4 linked regions of the Homo sapiens genome follow. The protein of the gene in region 1 interacts with the protein of each later gene in a pairwise test. Each region holds a gene or a part of one and is shown in the gene's direction. Other genes may lie near its edges.

Evidence for each region. Proteins that work in one complex are often made in the same cells at the same time.
Region 2: the proteins of TMEM51 (region 1) and TMEM14A interact in binary tests that used the Homo sapiens proteins (3 or more experiments, as listed by UniProt).
Region 3: the proteins of TMEM51 (region 1) and CCDC167 interact in binary tests that used the Homo sapiens proteins (3 or more experiments, as listed by UniProt).
Region 4: the proteins of TMEM51 (region 1) and VAMP4 interact in binary tests that used the Homo sapiens proteins (3 or more experiments, as listed by UniProt).

The regions. Positions count from the first base shown.
Region 1 is NC_000001.11:15,216,247-15,219,746, forward strand, and holds part of TMEM51 (transmembrane protein 51), read left to right. Parts: intron 1-3,079; coding exon 3,080-3,497; 3' UTR 3,498-3,500.
Region 2 is NC_000006.12:52,674,113-52,677,612, forward strand, and holds part of TMEM14A (transmembrane protein 14A), read left to right. Parts: intron 1-2,974; 5' UTR 2,975-2,990; coding exon 2,991-3,060; intron 3,061-3,500. UniProt on the Homo sapiens protein: Inhibits apoptosis via negative regulation of the mitochondrial outer membrane permeabilization involved in apoptotic signaling pathway.
Region 3 is NC_000006.12:37,486,394-37,489,893, reverse strand, and holds part of CCDC167 (coiled-coil domain-containing protein 167), read left to right. Parts: intron 1-3,500.
Region 4 is NC_000001.11:171,707,566-171,711,065, reverse strand, and holds part of VAMP4 (vesicle-associated membrane protein 4), read left to right. Parts: intron 1-251; coding exon 252-352; intron 353-1,265; coding exon of another isoform or gene 1,266-1,321; coding exon 1,322-1,401; intron 1,402-3,500. UniProt on the Homo sapiens protein: Involved in the pathway that functions to remove an inhibitor (probably synaptotagmin-4) of calcium-triggered exocytosis during the maturation of secretory granules.

The DNA.
Region 1 (3,500 bases):
TGCCACCAACAAATTTAAAAGATAAGTGATACATTGGGGAAGATATGATAATAGTTGATATCCCTATTATAAAAAGAGCTCTTAGAAATGAATATGTAAGATGAATATACCAATAGGAAACAGACAAAGATTATGAATATTCCATAGATGTTCAACCAATAGATGTTCAACTTCATTAGTCATGAAATGCAAGCAAAAAGATGTCTTTTCTTTTTTTTGCCTATCATATTGATCAAGATAGACAGCCCCTACTGTTGGAGAGTTGTAGGGAAGATGGATTGCTGATGAAATGTTGACTGATAGAAACTTTCTTAAGAGTTTCACCATAAGGGGCAGTACTGAAGATGTGCGTATTGATCCTATTTATAAGAGTTTATCCCTGGGAGACAGTCCCACAGGTGCAAAGGAGTTTGTACCAGTATATTTATCAGATCATTGTTTAGGATAACAAAAACTTAGAAACAACCTAAAAAACCACCTACTGAGTTAAATGACGTACCTATTCAATGGAGTTCTATGCAGCAACTGTTGATCTATATTTGTTAATGTGGGACCATATCCACAACAATGAGAAAAGGGGGATATAATACAGCATCTTTGGTCAGGTTATGGTCCCATCAAATGTTGTGGCTGTGGGATTGGAGAGGGGTAGGAAAGGTATACACCAGAATGTTACAGTGGTTTGTCTCCAGGTAGAAGGATTCGGGATGTTTTTCTTTTCTTCATTAGATGTTTCTGTGTTGTTTGAATTTTCTACAAGCATTTCTTATCTTTATAGTGGGAAGGGAATTGTTCTTAATGTAATATGGATTAAAGGGAACCCTTGGTACACTAATGGTGGGAATGTAAATTAGTGCAACCACTGTGGAGAAGTTTAGAGTTTCTTCAAAAAACTCAAAATTGAGCTGCCAAATGATTCAGCAATGCCACTTGTGGGTACACACCAGAAGAAAAAAAAATCTCATTATATTGAAGGGATTTCTGCCCTCCAATGTTACCAGTTACCACCCCTTTCCATGGTAATGACCTGGAAGTTACCATCCCTTTCCTAGAATGTTCTAAATAGCTTGCCCTTCAATTTACATTAACCCACTTCTTACTTTTGCACATAATTGAAAGTGGGTGTAAGTGGGTACAAATACAATTTCCAAATTAAACTCATTTTCTGATAGCAAAGAATAATATATGCTGTATTGGTCAGGGTTCTCCAGAGACACAGAACCAGGGGGATATATATTTTTTTAAATGGAGATTTATTATGAGGAATTAGTTCCTGGGATCATGGAAGCCAAAAAGTCCCACAATTTGCCATCTGTAAGCTGCAGACCCAGGAAAGCAAGGGGTATAATTCATTCTGAGTTTGAAGGCCTGATTGAGAACGAGGAGAGGTGAGGGTATAGATCCTAGTCTGAGAGCAGGAGAAGATGAAATGAGATGTCCCAGCTCAAGCAGTGAGGCAGGGAGAAATGAGTCAAATTCCTGCTTGCTCTGACTTTGGGTCTATCTAGGGCCTCCATGGGTTGGATGGTGCCACCACACTGAGGAGGGGAATCTGCCTTACAGAGCCCACCGAGCTGAATGCTAGTATCTTCCAGAAACACCCTCACTCTCACAGTGTTTAATATGGGCAACCATGGCCAGTCAGGTTGACACCTAAAATTAACCATCACACATGCTTATTCTAGAAAACTTGAGAAATATAGAAAAGAACAAATATCAATCACTCATCATTCCCCACCCTAGCTGTGAGCACATTTGAGTTCATTCCTAAAGGAGGGTGGGAGGAAAACCAAGGCAGACTTTGAGGTTTCTGATGTTGGCCATGATCACCCCACAGGTTCAAGTATAGAGTCCTGGAAAGTGGCTATTGGCGTTAATTCTGACAAATGTGTAGAAAATATCCTGACTTTTTGGTTTTCTCTTTCAACAGTCAAATGAGAATAAGGCTGAGAGGACCTGATCTTTTTGAGTCTTGGGATAAACTTGGAAGATAAAATTACAGAATAATTTGAGACACACATAAATGTTATATTTCAGATATTCTTTCTCTACTGAAAGTTGGTAGCAACTTTGTACATTTCTGTGTTGCCTTTGACCAAAGGACCCAGCTGAGCATTGGAATAGCTCACGCAGCATGTCGCTAAGTGGGAAAGGCTTAAAGGCAAAGGAGGTTTAACACCCAGATAACATGGTGGAGTAGTTGAGAGTACAGTGTTCACTTCCTGCCCTCCCATTTCCTGAAGGTCTGACCAAGTCATTTAATCTTGATGTATCTCAGTCCATCTATAAATTGGGTATTATAATAATAGTGAGATAGAAAACAGGCAGGACTTGTTTTCTGATCATAACCCTGCTGACCAAAACAGGATGTGGTCCAGATGAGATAAGGTTTAAAAAAACACTAGCCAAAGCCAGCAAACGGGAACGAGGGTGATCCCTGGCTGCCCTCATTGCTCATCAGCATGGGACACTCTCACCAGTGCCATGACAGTTTACAATTGCCATGACAACGACCTGGCAGTTACCATCCCTTTCCATGGTAACGACCCAGAAGTTACCTTTCCTAGGAAGTCTTAAATAGCTTGCCCCTCAATTTGCATTAACCCACCCCTTAATTTGCATGTGACTAAAAGTGGGTATAAATACAATTTCCAAGAGCCCCTATGTGGCCAACTCAGGGTGTACTGCCTATGAGTTAGCCCTGCTCCACAAGAAGCAGTGCCCTTCAATAAAGAATTGTGGTCTAACACCACTGGCTCACCCTTGAATTCCTTCCTTGATGAAGCCAAGAACCCTCCCAGGCTAAGCCCCAATTTGGGGACTCACCTGTCCTGTCCTGCATGACTAGTACTTAACTCATAGTGTTGTCAGGAATCTGAAATTGGTTCATATTTGCTAAAATACTTAGAAGGGAGCCCAGCTCATAGTAAACACTTGAAGTATTCACTTTTATTGCCTCTAAGACCCATTTGTTATTTACAAGGCTGCTGTGTGTGGACTCTTTGGAGCCCATCCCTTTGGGATTTTGAATGACTTGAGCACAGGCTAACACTCTCCCTGTCTGTGTGTCTTCTTGCAGCCAGGAGGAAGAAGAGGAGGATGAGGAGGCTGCCTCAAGGTACTATGTTCCCAGCTACGAGGAAGTGATGAACACAAACTACTCAGAAGCAAGGGGAGAGGAGCAGAACCCGAGGTTGAGCATCTCTCTCCCGTCCTATGAGTCACTGACGGGGCTCGACGAGACCACCCCCACATCCACCAGGGCTGACGTGGAGGCCAGCCCTGGGAACCCCCCTGACAGGCAGAACTCTAAGTTGGCCAAACGACTGAAACCGCTGAAAGTTCGAAGGATTAAATCTGAAAAGCTTCACCTCAAAGACTTTAGGATCAACCTCCCAGACAAAAACGTCCCTCCTCCCTCGATAGAGCCTTTGACTCCTCCACCGCAGTATGATGAAGTCCAGGAGAAGGCCCCCGACACCCGGCCGCCCGACTGAATG
Region 2 (3,500 bases), on another chromosome or scaffold:
CCACAGCTAGTAAGTGGTGGTATCAGGTTTGAAGATAAGCATACTTTATAGCATATGGTTAGCTCCTTTAGAAAGATAATAAGTAGGATCAAACATGAGAAGTTCATGGGGCTGAACATTGTAAGTTACCAGATGGAACACAGTGCCCTGTGGTCACAACTTTAAGCTATGAAGAGCATGTGATTGATCCAGAATTGAAAACTCTGAAGAACATGTTTGGTTTACATGTTCGCTTTTTTTCAGCAGCTAACTCAGTTATCAGAGGTGATGTTGCATAGAGGTTAGGACTGAGACTTCCCTAAGTCAGAGATCTTTGTTTTGCTGTATAACCTTCAGGCATTGCTTGCATTCTCTGTGTGCCACTTTCCTCATCTGGAAAATGAGGATAATCATGACAGTACATACCATAGGGTGTGGTCATGATTACATGAGTTGATACACATAAGGCACCTAGAATGCCTTAGAATGGCACCTAGCACATAGTAATTGCTCAAAAACATTATAACCTCTTTATTATTATTATTTGTTTAGCCATCATTCAGTCAGCAAATGGTTTTTGGACCCAGGTTCTCCCTACATGCTACATCCTACTGTACCACTTCTCGGCCACAGATGAGCTCTCCTGTTTTAATTCTCCTTCCTGCAGATGATGAGCATTTTTCAGTGTTGCCTCCTTTTTGGTGCTGTCATCTCCTGTGCCTCAGCTTCCCTCCCCCATACCCTTCCTCATAGTAAGTTCTAGTGGATGACTCTGAGATCAGCTCAAAATTCTTCTTCTTTTTTTTTTTTTTTTTTTTTGAGACGCCCAGGCTGGAGTGCAGTGGCACGATCACAGTTGATTGCAACCTCTGCCTCGCAGGTTCAAGGGATTTTCCGGTCTCAGCCTCCTGAGTAGCTGGGATTACAGACATGCACCACCATGCCACGTCCGGGTAATTTGTTGTATATTTAGTAGAGAAGGGGTTTCACCATGTTGACTGGGCTGGTCTCAAACTCCTGACCTGAAGTGATCCACCAGCCTCTGCCTTCCAAAGTGCTGGGATTACAGGCGTGAGCTACCTCGCCTGGCCCCTTTTTATGTTCTACATTAATTTATTACCAATTGATAATGGGAGATAAAAGGCCCATTAACCTAAATGATAAGCAATGAGAAAATTGTAAAAATATGCAAGGAATCTCACTTACCATTCCTCACATTTACAAAGATAATTACCTTCCCTGTGGAAGAAATATAGACGTGAGAAAGCTCAGAAATAAAGGCACCACTAGGGGTCTTAGAACTTAAAAAGCTGTAAAGAACTCCAGAACTCTTTTCATCTATTCTCCTAACTTGCAGGGAGAGTTGAGGGTGAGGGAGGGGCATGGTCTGAGGCCCAGTGGCCACATCTCTAGCCTGTGGCTGGCACGCTATCTACTGCATCTGAGAGAATTGTGGGCAGGGTTTCAGTGGAACTTCTCACCACTGGGTATGTTTCAGCTGCTGCTATGATGCACAGTAGGATGTCATTGTCATCCATTTAACTTCATGCTGGGGCTATATTGTATTCTTTAGTGATTTGCCATTGATTAAGTGTGGATGTCTCTGCTACCACAGAAGAGCTATCTTGCAAGGAAACTAATGACAAAGCCATTGTTTAAACTGAATTAGTCAATCTCCAAGAAGACATCCATCTGTAAAGAATGAGAGGACTAATATCTGTACAGACATGAAAGAATTATAAGATGGAATTGTGGAAGTTAAGGAATTTAGAGGAGGAAGAAGGCATTTGCTCCAGATCACTTTGATAGTACAGACTAGAGTCAAGGAAATTAGGAGGTAATTAATAAGGGTAGAAGTCAGGGGAGAAGGTTTAAAGGGAGGTGGCATACAGGGGATAGTCGGGCTTTTGGAGGTGGACAGGGAGGGAGGACATTTCAGGCATGGAAGTGAAAAGTGAAGATTGTAGTGTCACAGTTCAGTGAAGAGACCTGGCTGACCAGAGCAGAAGTTTTATTTGGGTAAGTGGAAAGAATTGAACAGCTGAGAGTATGGCAGATCTTGAAGACAGGCAGAGGAGAATCAGCTTGAGGTACCCCCCAGAGTGTGCTTAACAGTGATGAGGATGAAGGGGAAAGTAGAGGGTTGGGAGAGGTGAAGTTTGAACCTCTTTTTTCCCTTGAGACAGGGTGTCACTCTGTCATCCAGGCTGGAGTGCAGTGGCACAATCACGGCTCATTGCAACCTCAACCTCCAGGGCTCAAGCAATCCTCCCAACTCAGCATCCTGAGTAGCTGGGATCACACGTGCATGCCATCACACCCAGCTAATTTTTTGTATTTTTACTAGAGATGGGGTTTTGCCATGTTGATCAGGTTGGTCTCAAATTCCTGGGTTTAAGCCATCTACCTGCCTTGGTCTTCCCAAGTACTAGGATTACAGGCGTGAGCACCATGCCTGGCCGAACTTCCCTTTCTTTAGTAGACTAGAGAAATTAATTTCTGTAATTCTGTGGAATGTCTTTGTATTAGTCATTCTCACACTGCTCTAAATAACTACCTGAGACTCGGTAATTTATGAAGAAAAGAGGTTTAATCAACTCAACTTCCGCAGGCTGTACAGGAGGCGTGGCTGGAGAAGCCTCAGGAAACTTATAATCATGGTGGAAGGCAAAGGGGAAGCAAGCATGTCTTCACATGGCGACAGGAGGGGGAGAGCACGTGAAGGGGGAAGTGCTACACGCTTTCAAACATCCAGATCTTGTGAGAACTTTAGATCATGGAACAGCACTAGGGGGATGTTGCTAAACCATTAGCAGCCACCCCCGTGATCCAGTCACCTCCCACCAGGCCCCACCTCCAACACTCAGGATCACAATTCAACATGAAATTTGGGTGGGGACACACAGCCAAACCATATAAGCGTATCATTTTTAGATACATTCCCTCCCCAAAACTTTTTTATTTTGTATAATTTGTCCTTTCCCCCTTGCTTTAGAATTGCAACCTTGCCAATGGACCTGATCGGTTTTGGTTATGCAGCCCTCGTGACATTTGGAAGCATTTTTGGATATAAGCGGAGAGGTAAGCCTAACCCAAATTTTCATGAAAGGGAATTAGTGGGGGTTTGGAGGTTGTGCTAGGTCATGTGAGGCTCTGTAAGTAGGATGAGAAGCTAAAGATGCCTTAGAGGTGGCTGAAGACCAGCGTGTCTTGGAAGGGACTCATGAAAGGAAGAGGCTTCCGTGGGGCTGAGCATGACAGAGTGTTCCAACCTGGGGGTTCTGGGCCTCTCTTCCACCACAAAACTCTCACTTCACTTCATCATCAGTTGCATAGTTAATTGATTTAATCTCCCTCAGGACCACTGCTTATTATTAAATGAGGATTTTTTTTTTTTGCTTTACATAATCGTGGTACCAAAAAACTGAGTTATATTGATCCTGTGTGTTGTAATGAAAACATTGTTAAATATTCAGTTATCATATCCAAAGTTGTCTCTTCACCTTTGTCCAAAAGAGGGG
Region 3 (3,500 bases), on another chromosome or scaffold:
TTTGCCGGTCACAGTCACAGCCGTAAGTGCTGCCCCCTGATAGCTCCAGGCAAGTCCTGGCCCCTGAGCCAGGCATGCCTCTTCCTGCCAGCTGGCCCTACTATGCAGCCTGTCGGGCAGGAGTCCTGGGAGCCCCTGTGGCCTTCAGAGTATAACTTTCCCTTCCTACTGGGCTTGGTGGGATCCCTTCCACGGGGCCTCTTCAGGCTGCCTAGAACCATGGTGTGAGTGAGCCCTGGCTCTGGCTGCTGGGCCTCACCTGCTGTTCCACATTTCCTCAGATGCCCACTGATGCCCAGACCGCCCCCAGGCTGTTCCACCTTGGACATGGCTCCAGGCCTCTCACGCTAGGATTCTACCAGGTGCCATGTCTGCAACCTGGCCCTGGCTCCAGAGGCCCACCCCAGCTTTGTCCCAGGGAAGGATCGCAAGGTTCCCACCATGCCATGTCTGGAGTAAGCGGAGCGAGCTGGCCTGTGGCCTGTTGTTGTTCTGACATCTACCCTGGGGGCCCTCCCTGCTGAACCTCTTCATGGACTGGGAATGGCCACATCCAAGGTAGAGGGGCCCTCCTCCCTGCACTGCCAGTCAGCAACTCATGGAGATTCCTCTCCACCTCACACCCCTGCTGTTTTTTTTTGTTTGTTTGTTTGTTTTTGAGATAGAGTCTCGCTCTGTCACCCAGGCTGGAGTGCAGTGGTGCCATCTCGGCTCACTGCAGCCTCCACCCCCTGGGTTCAAGCAATTCTTCTGCCTCAGCCTCCTGAGTAGCTGGGACTACAGGCGTGCGCCACCACGCCTGGCTAATTTTTGTATTTTTAGTAGAGACAGAGTTTCACCATGTTGGCCAGGATGGTCTGGATCTCCTGACCTCGTGATCCGCCCACCTTGGTCTCCCAAGGTGCTGGAATTACAGGCGTGAGCCACCATGCCCAGCCACACCCCTGCTTCTATCACCTTCTCTTACTCTTGCCATGGACTAACCAGGTTTTCTTTTATTCTCCAAAGATCTAGTGCAAACCACTCTCTGATAATAAAGATAGCAAACACTTACTGAACTCTGACCATGTAAAGCATGTTCTGGGCATCTTACCTGTTGGCTCCATGTCATCCTCACAAAACTCTTTGAAATATGAAATGTGGTTATCTTTGTTTTACACGTGAGTCAACTGAGCACAGAACTAAGGGAGTTGCCCAGTCATACCACAAGTGAGTGACAGAGCCAGGGGCACTGATTATAGCCCATGCTCCTTACCACTCACTTACCTGGAACCACCATTCCAGGCTTCTGGGCACTTGAGCTCCCAACTGCTTGCCCAGTTCTGGCCCTTACACTTCTAGAATCTTCTTGACATTTGTCTCCTTATCTGGTCCTAATCCCCACATCTTCTCTCCTGGTCCTGGCTGTCTTGTCTTCCGTTGCCTTTAGCCTGGTGGTGGCAAGGAGAGAGCTAACCAACGACTGCACATTTGCCTCGGGTCGTCTGCAAAGTGCATAATCCGTGTGCATGTAGTTGAGAGCTGGCTGAAAATCCAAGTCGGGACTTCCTTTAAGACCCACTTTCTGGGTCCTCTCCCACCTTTCAGGCCCATCCTGCTGTGTCAGCTCTGCTCTGTAGCCACCACTCCTGACCCCAGCCACAACTAAAAGAGGCATCTGGACCTACCTTCCCTCCCTGCCTCTGCAGCCAGGTCCCCTGGAGTCTCTCCACTCATGTTGACAGCTGGCTCCTGCTTCAGCAAATGCTGCAGGGTGTTTGATTGTCAGCTTCCCGAACCAGGCCCAGTGCTGGGGACCCCGCAGGGTCACCTTCTGAGGATGGGTTTGTGGCCTCTGAAGAGCCTCTTGACAGTCTTAGCCTCCCCTCACTCAGCCCACATCAAGCAGCTGGGTTATAAAGAAGGGGAACTTGCTATTTAGAAGGGAATCAGCGAGAGCTGTCAGCAGGACATAAATATTCATAGAGGGAGGTTAGAACTTGAGTCCCTAAAACCTTGATTTGTGTTCGACCGTTTAAGCCTCATTAAAAAGTGGCAAATGAAAGTGGGAATATTCAGTGGAACTGCAGATAAATTGGGCTTGTTCAGATAAAGGCCCCCGACTGCCAGCTCCGCAGGCTCTGCCCAGAGCATGATAGCAGATTGGCTTGGCCACTTGTGGTTTGCCAACCTCAAAATTTTAAGATTTTGCTTAGCATGAGTTCCTGGCCTTGCTCTGGGGGCAATTACCACTTGTTTGGGCACTTGGTAGCCTTCCAGAGGTGTTCAGGGATGGAATTCCGCAATCTGCTCCCTCCCCAGAATGACACGCAAACCAAGGCCTGGCTCAAGGACTGTTAAGGAGAAATCTCACCTAGGACTAAGACTTGCACTGGGCAATCTGCAAAGCGTACAATTTATGTGCATGTCTAGTTGCTTCTCCTCCTCCTAGCTTTTTCTAGCTTCTATGGACAAGAAGAACGGAGGTTTCAGGCTCCAGTTGCTACGTGAGACCTAAACCGTCTGTCCTTGCCCCTCAGTCCCACCCAAGCTCAACTCCACTCATTGTGGCTAAAAATACAAAGACTGCAGCAGGCTAGGCCTTGGTGGGCACAAAGAGGAGACAGATGGTCACTGTTCCTTCTAGGACAGGAGCTTTAGACTCGGGCCTCTGCCGGGACCAGGCAGTTCACATATATAAGTGGAATGGGCCAATCTGTGGGCTAGACCTGACCTACGGGCTGCCAGTTGGCACCATTTAGAGACCCCTAGAGTTTGGGAAGATAAAGTTTGGACACAAACAGAAGGGCAACAAAGAATATACTCAGCCTCATGAAGGAAGGACTGGTTAATTTCCCAGGAGAAGGAGGGTGGAATGCACCCCGTCCCCTGCCCCCCAACCCCCACCCCCCTGCCACAGCCAAGGGCAGCAGGGAAGCCTGGTGGAGGAGGTAGGGCATCAAGAATTAAGCTTTATTTGTGCTCTTGAGTGGAATCTGAGTCTCAGGGTACTGAGGGGCTGGGCTGTGTGCTGGGGGTGCTGCTGTAAAGGGGAGGCCACATGGTGGCCTGAGGCACTGGGCATGGGGCTGCCGCTCTTCCCTGAATCTGGCTTCCCAGTGTTCATTTCCATGCTGCACAGGTTCTAGGTAGGCCTTTGGCCTCCCCAGGGACAGCCCCATCTCCTGGCTGGGTCTGTTTCCCAGGACAGCCCTCCTTTTGGGTGCCCAGTAGCAGAGAAACGACACAATTAACCAGGCAATTAACTCAAGGCTCTGTGGTCGCTCTCTCCCACAGGGCCCTGCTTATGGGGCTGGAGGTGGCCATGGTGGGGCTGCAGGGCAGGGGGTGGATGGTGTGTCATTGCCAGGCCTCCCTCGGGAAGAAGGAAAAGTGGCTGACATGGAAGTGGCTGAGATGGGTGTTGGCCGTGGAGAGAGACAGAAGGCCCAGAGACTTGGAATGCAACTCTCCTGACACTCAGCCCCAGAATGCCTGCTACCCTCTAACCAGCCATTGTG
Region 4 (3,500 bases), about 160 Mb from region 1:
TTACAAGTCAGAAGCAGGGCTAAAAGTAAGCTATCTTTAAATATTACTTTAATTTATATCATATTGTCTTTCATTATCTGAGTACTGAAGCCCACAAATGGAAGAACATTGCTACAAAGTCTTAAATTTAAATTTTATAGTTGAATAATTCTCTGAGAATTTGCTATTCTTTATTATGTCTAATGAAAGTTTTAAAAATTGTAAGCATTCTCAAAAGAAGGATAAATAATTGTGTATCTTTTTTAAACTAGTGTTCAGAATCAAGTGGATGAAGTTATTGATGTCATGCAAGAAAATATTACAAAGGTAATTGAGAGAGGGGAGAGACTAGATGAACTACAGGACAAATCAGGTACAGATCTTCATGTATTTCTTGATATTACTAATCTGTTTGCTAGTTTTTGTCTTCTACTTGTCTAGCCAACGTTTACAAATCTTGGCTTAGGAAATTGGCATTTGGTTCTTAAGTATATGATTTTAATGGTTTAATTTTAACTCCTTTACTTTGAGTCATCTTATTGTTTCATTATTTTTTAATTGTTCAGTGGAGAATGAAGAATTTAAAATTTCATTGTTGAAGAGTGAAGAGTAGAGCTGTTTTTTCTTTTGCCCTGTGATATTGATGAACTTTGTGTTTCTCATGATCTCAGGGCCTAAAGACCTACTCACTTTTCAACACTTGTTTCAAACTTATCTGCTATTTTTATTTTATGTTTTATTTGGTAACTTAGTCACCTTTCTTTACTTTCAGTCATTACACCTATAACCTATACCTATACCTATACCTATACCTGGCACGTACTTGCCACTCAAATATTGTTTGGTGAATGGCTGAATACCTGATTAATCTTTGACAGACTTTAGAAAAAAAAAAAACACCTCGCTTAGTCACATTTAAAATGTATATTGTTTTCCTTTAAAATCAGTCACTTTTGATATCTTCTAAGAAGCTAACTTCTCAACATGTAATTTTTTTTCTAGAGGTGTGCCAAGTATTTGAATTTTTAAAGAGTATTTTTCTTACTAGATTTCCTAAGTTTATTTATAAGCATTAAGGCCCTAAAAAGACTTTTCTTAATTTTATAATAAAAAAGAAGTGAGCAAACTGATCTGCAAGCTGTTTTTTGCTTTTTGTTTTCATTTTTTTAATAATGTAGAATGCCAGAGTTTGTGGGTGGAAAAAAGGGAGAATGCTGTTTTCATGCTTAAAAGGGAATAAATTTGCAGAAGTAGAAATTAATATTTTCTTATCTTTGTGTGACTAGATAAAAGAATCCTGTTATGTCGTTTAATCCTTCTCTCCATCCTCTATGTGATATAGAAAGCTTATCGGATAATGCAACAGCTTTTAGCAACAGATCCAAACAACTTCGAAGGCAAATGTGGTGGCGTGGATGCAAAGTAAGTAAATCAGAAGCTACTGGATAGACTGGTCAGCATCTGAAGTGGTATTCAAACACATGAAGAAAAAAGGGCCTCTAGAGCATAACCTCTGTGAGAACAGGGCCTATAACTGTCCTGAGACATGGTAGAAATTCAGTAAATACTTGTTAACTTAATTGCTTTTGGGATAGGGATAACTAAATAAATCAGTATGCCTAAAAGGATGTTTTCATAGATTTTTTTAATGAAAGTAATCCACATTTTATTAATATTTGACTACCTCTAAACTTATTAACTTAAAACAAATATACATTTTTTCTTGAAATTTACTATTAATACTTTTTTGGAGCAACCTCTATAGCATTATGTAGAGATATCAAAAGTAGGAGCTAGAGAAAAATATGACTTTCGGTTGAAAGGGTAAAAAATAAAAGCTTACATATCCGAATCTGTTAAGACAAATGGAGTTAAGAAAAAACTCCACTTCCCTCATTATTCCAGAAAAATAAAAAGTAAAAGAAATTTTTACCATTTTTAACAAGGTAAACATTGGAATCACTACATACTAATATATACTCCTGCAAAACATTGTATAGAAATACATTTACTTCTTAAATCCACTGTGGCTACTAATCATTAACAGAAAATGTTTTTCACGTTATATGAGCAAATCTTTTTTTTTTTTCTCCTGATTCTAGTTATAATTTTTGGCTTTGTTTAAAATTTAGACATGAACTCACTGTTTTTAGTCTCTCATTTTCAATTTCAAGTTTAGCAATAACTCTCCTTTTTTTTTTTTTTTTTTTCTTTGAGATAGAGTTTTGCTCTTGTTGTCCAGGCTGATCTCGGCTCACCACAATATCACCGCAACCTCTGCCTCCAGGGTTCAAGCGATTCTTCTGCCTCAGCCTCCTGAGTAGCTGGAATTACAGACATGTGCCACCATGCCCAGCTAATTTTGTTTTTTTTGTTTTTTTTTTTTTTAGTAGAGACGGGGTTTCTCCATGTTGGTCAGGCTGGTCTTGAACTCCTGACCTCAGGTGATCCACCTGCCTTGGCCTCCCAAAGTGCTGGGATTACAGGCATGAGCCACTGCACCAGCCAGCAATAACTTTCTAAACCTGACTTAGCCATATGCTGAGGATTTTTTCCAAGAGTTACCTTGGATTTATTTATTTTTATTTGTCTACCTATTGAATCGTCCTACTTTCAGAAGTGGAACTGAGGGAAGAAATATGTTTCATTTCTCCCCTTGTTCAGAATTTAAATTTTCTATTCTATTTTAAGTTATTTATTCTTTAAAGAATAAATTTATTTTCTTTAAAGTCTTTTTTTTTTTTTTTTTGTGGCACTCTTGCTGTGTCTCTGAGGCTGGAGTGCAGTGGCACAATCTTGGCTCACTGCAACCTCTGCCTCCTAGGTTCAAGTGATTCTCATGCCTCAGCCTCCTAAGTAGCCCAGGTTCAAGCGATTCTCCTGCCTTAGTCTCCCGAGTAGCTGGAATTACAGGCATGCACCACCACACCTGGCTAATTTTTGTATTTTTAGTAGAGACGGGGTTTCACTATGTTGGCCAGGCTGGTCTTGAACTTCTGGCCTCGAGCAATCTGCCCACCTCAGCCTCCCAAAGTGCTGGATTACAGGCATGAGCCACCACACTTTGCCTAAAGCTTCTATATCTATAGAAATTTTCTATTCTGTGGGCTAATTTAGAAAAACAAAAAGTCCATGAGCCACTCACCCCTTCTCTCTCCCAAACTCATGTACCCTATTCATGTATCCACAAAAAGATGGTCATAATGTACATTTTGCCTAGCTTTTTTTTTAACCATTGCTAAAAATGTTTGCTTTGTACTTTATGGGGTTTGGGTCAGAGGAATAGCGTGCTTTTAAGGAGGAAAAACATTGAGTCATATTTTTAAATAGTCATCACCTTGAGAACCTCTGGGGACCATGAATAGCATCGACCATGTAATGAAAATCATTGTTCCATAATGTAACAAACACCATTTACAGTAGCGAGTATTCTTCATTTATTATTTTCTAATGCTTAGCTTCCTTCAGTTTTACTGTGCCCCATTAATACTTCATTGTGCTACTGTTCATCTGGGGCAGCC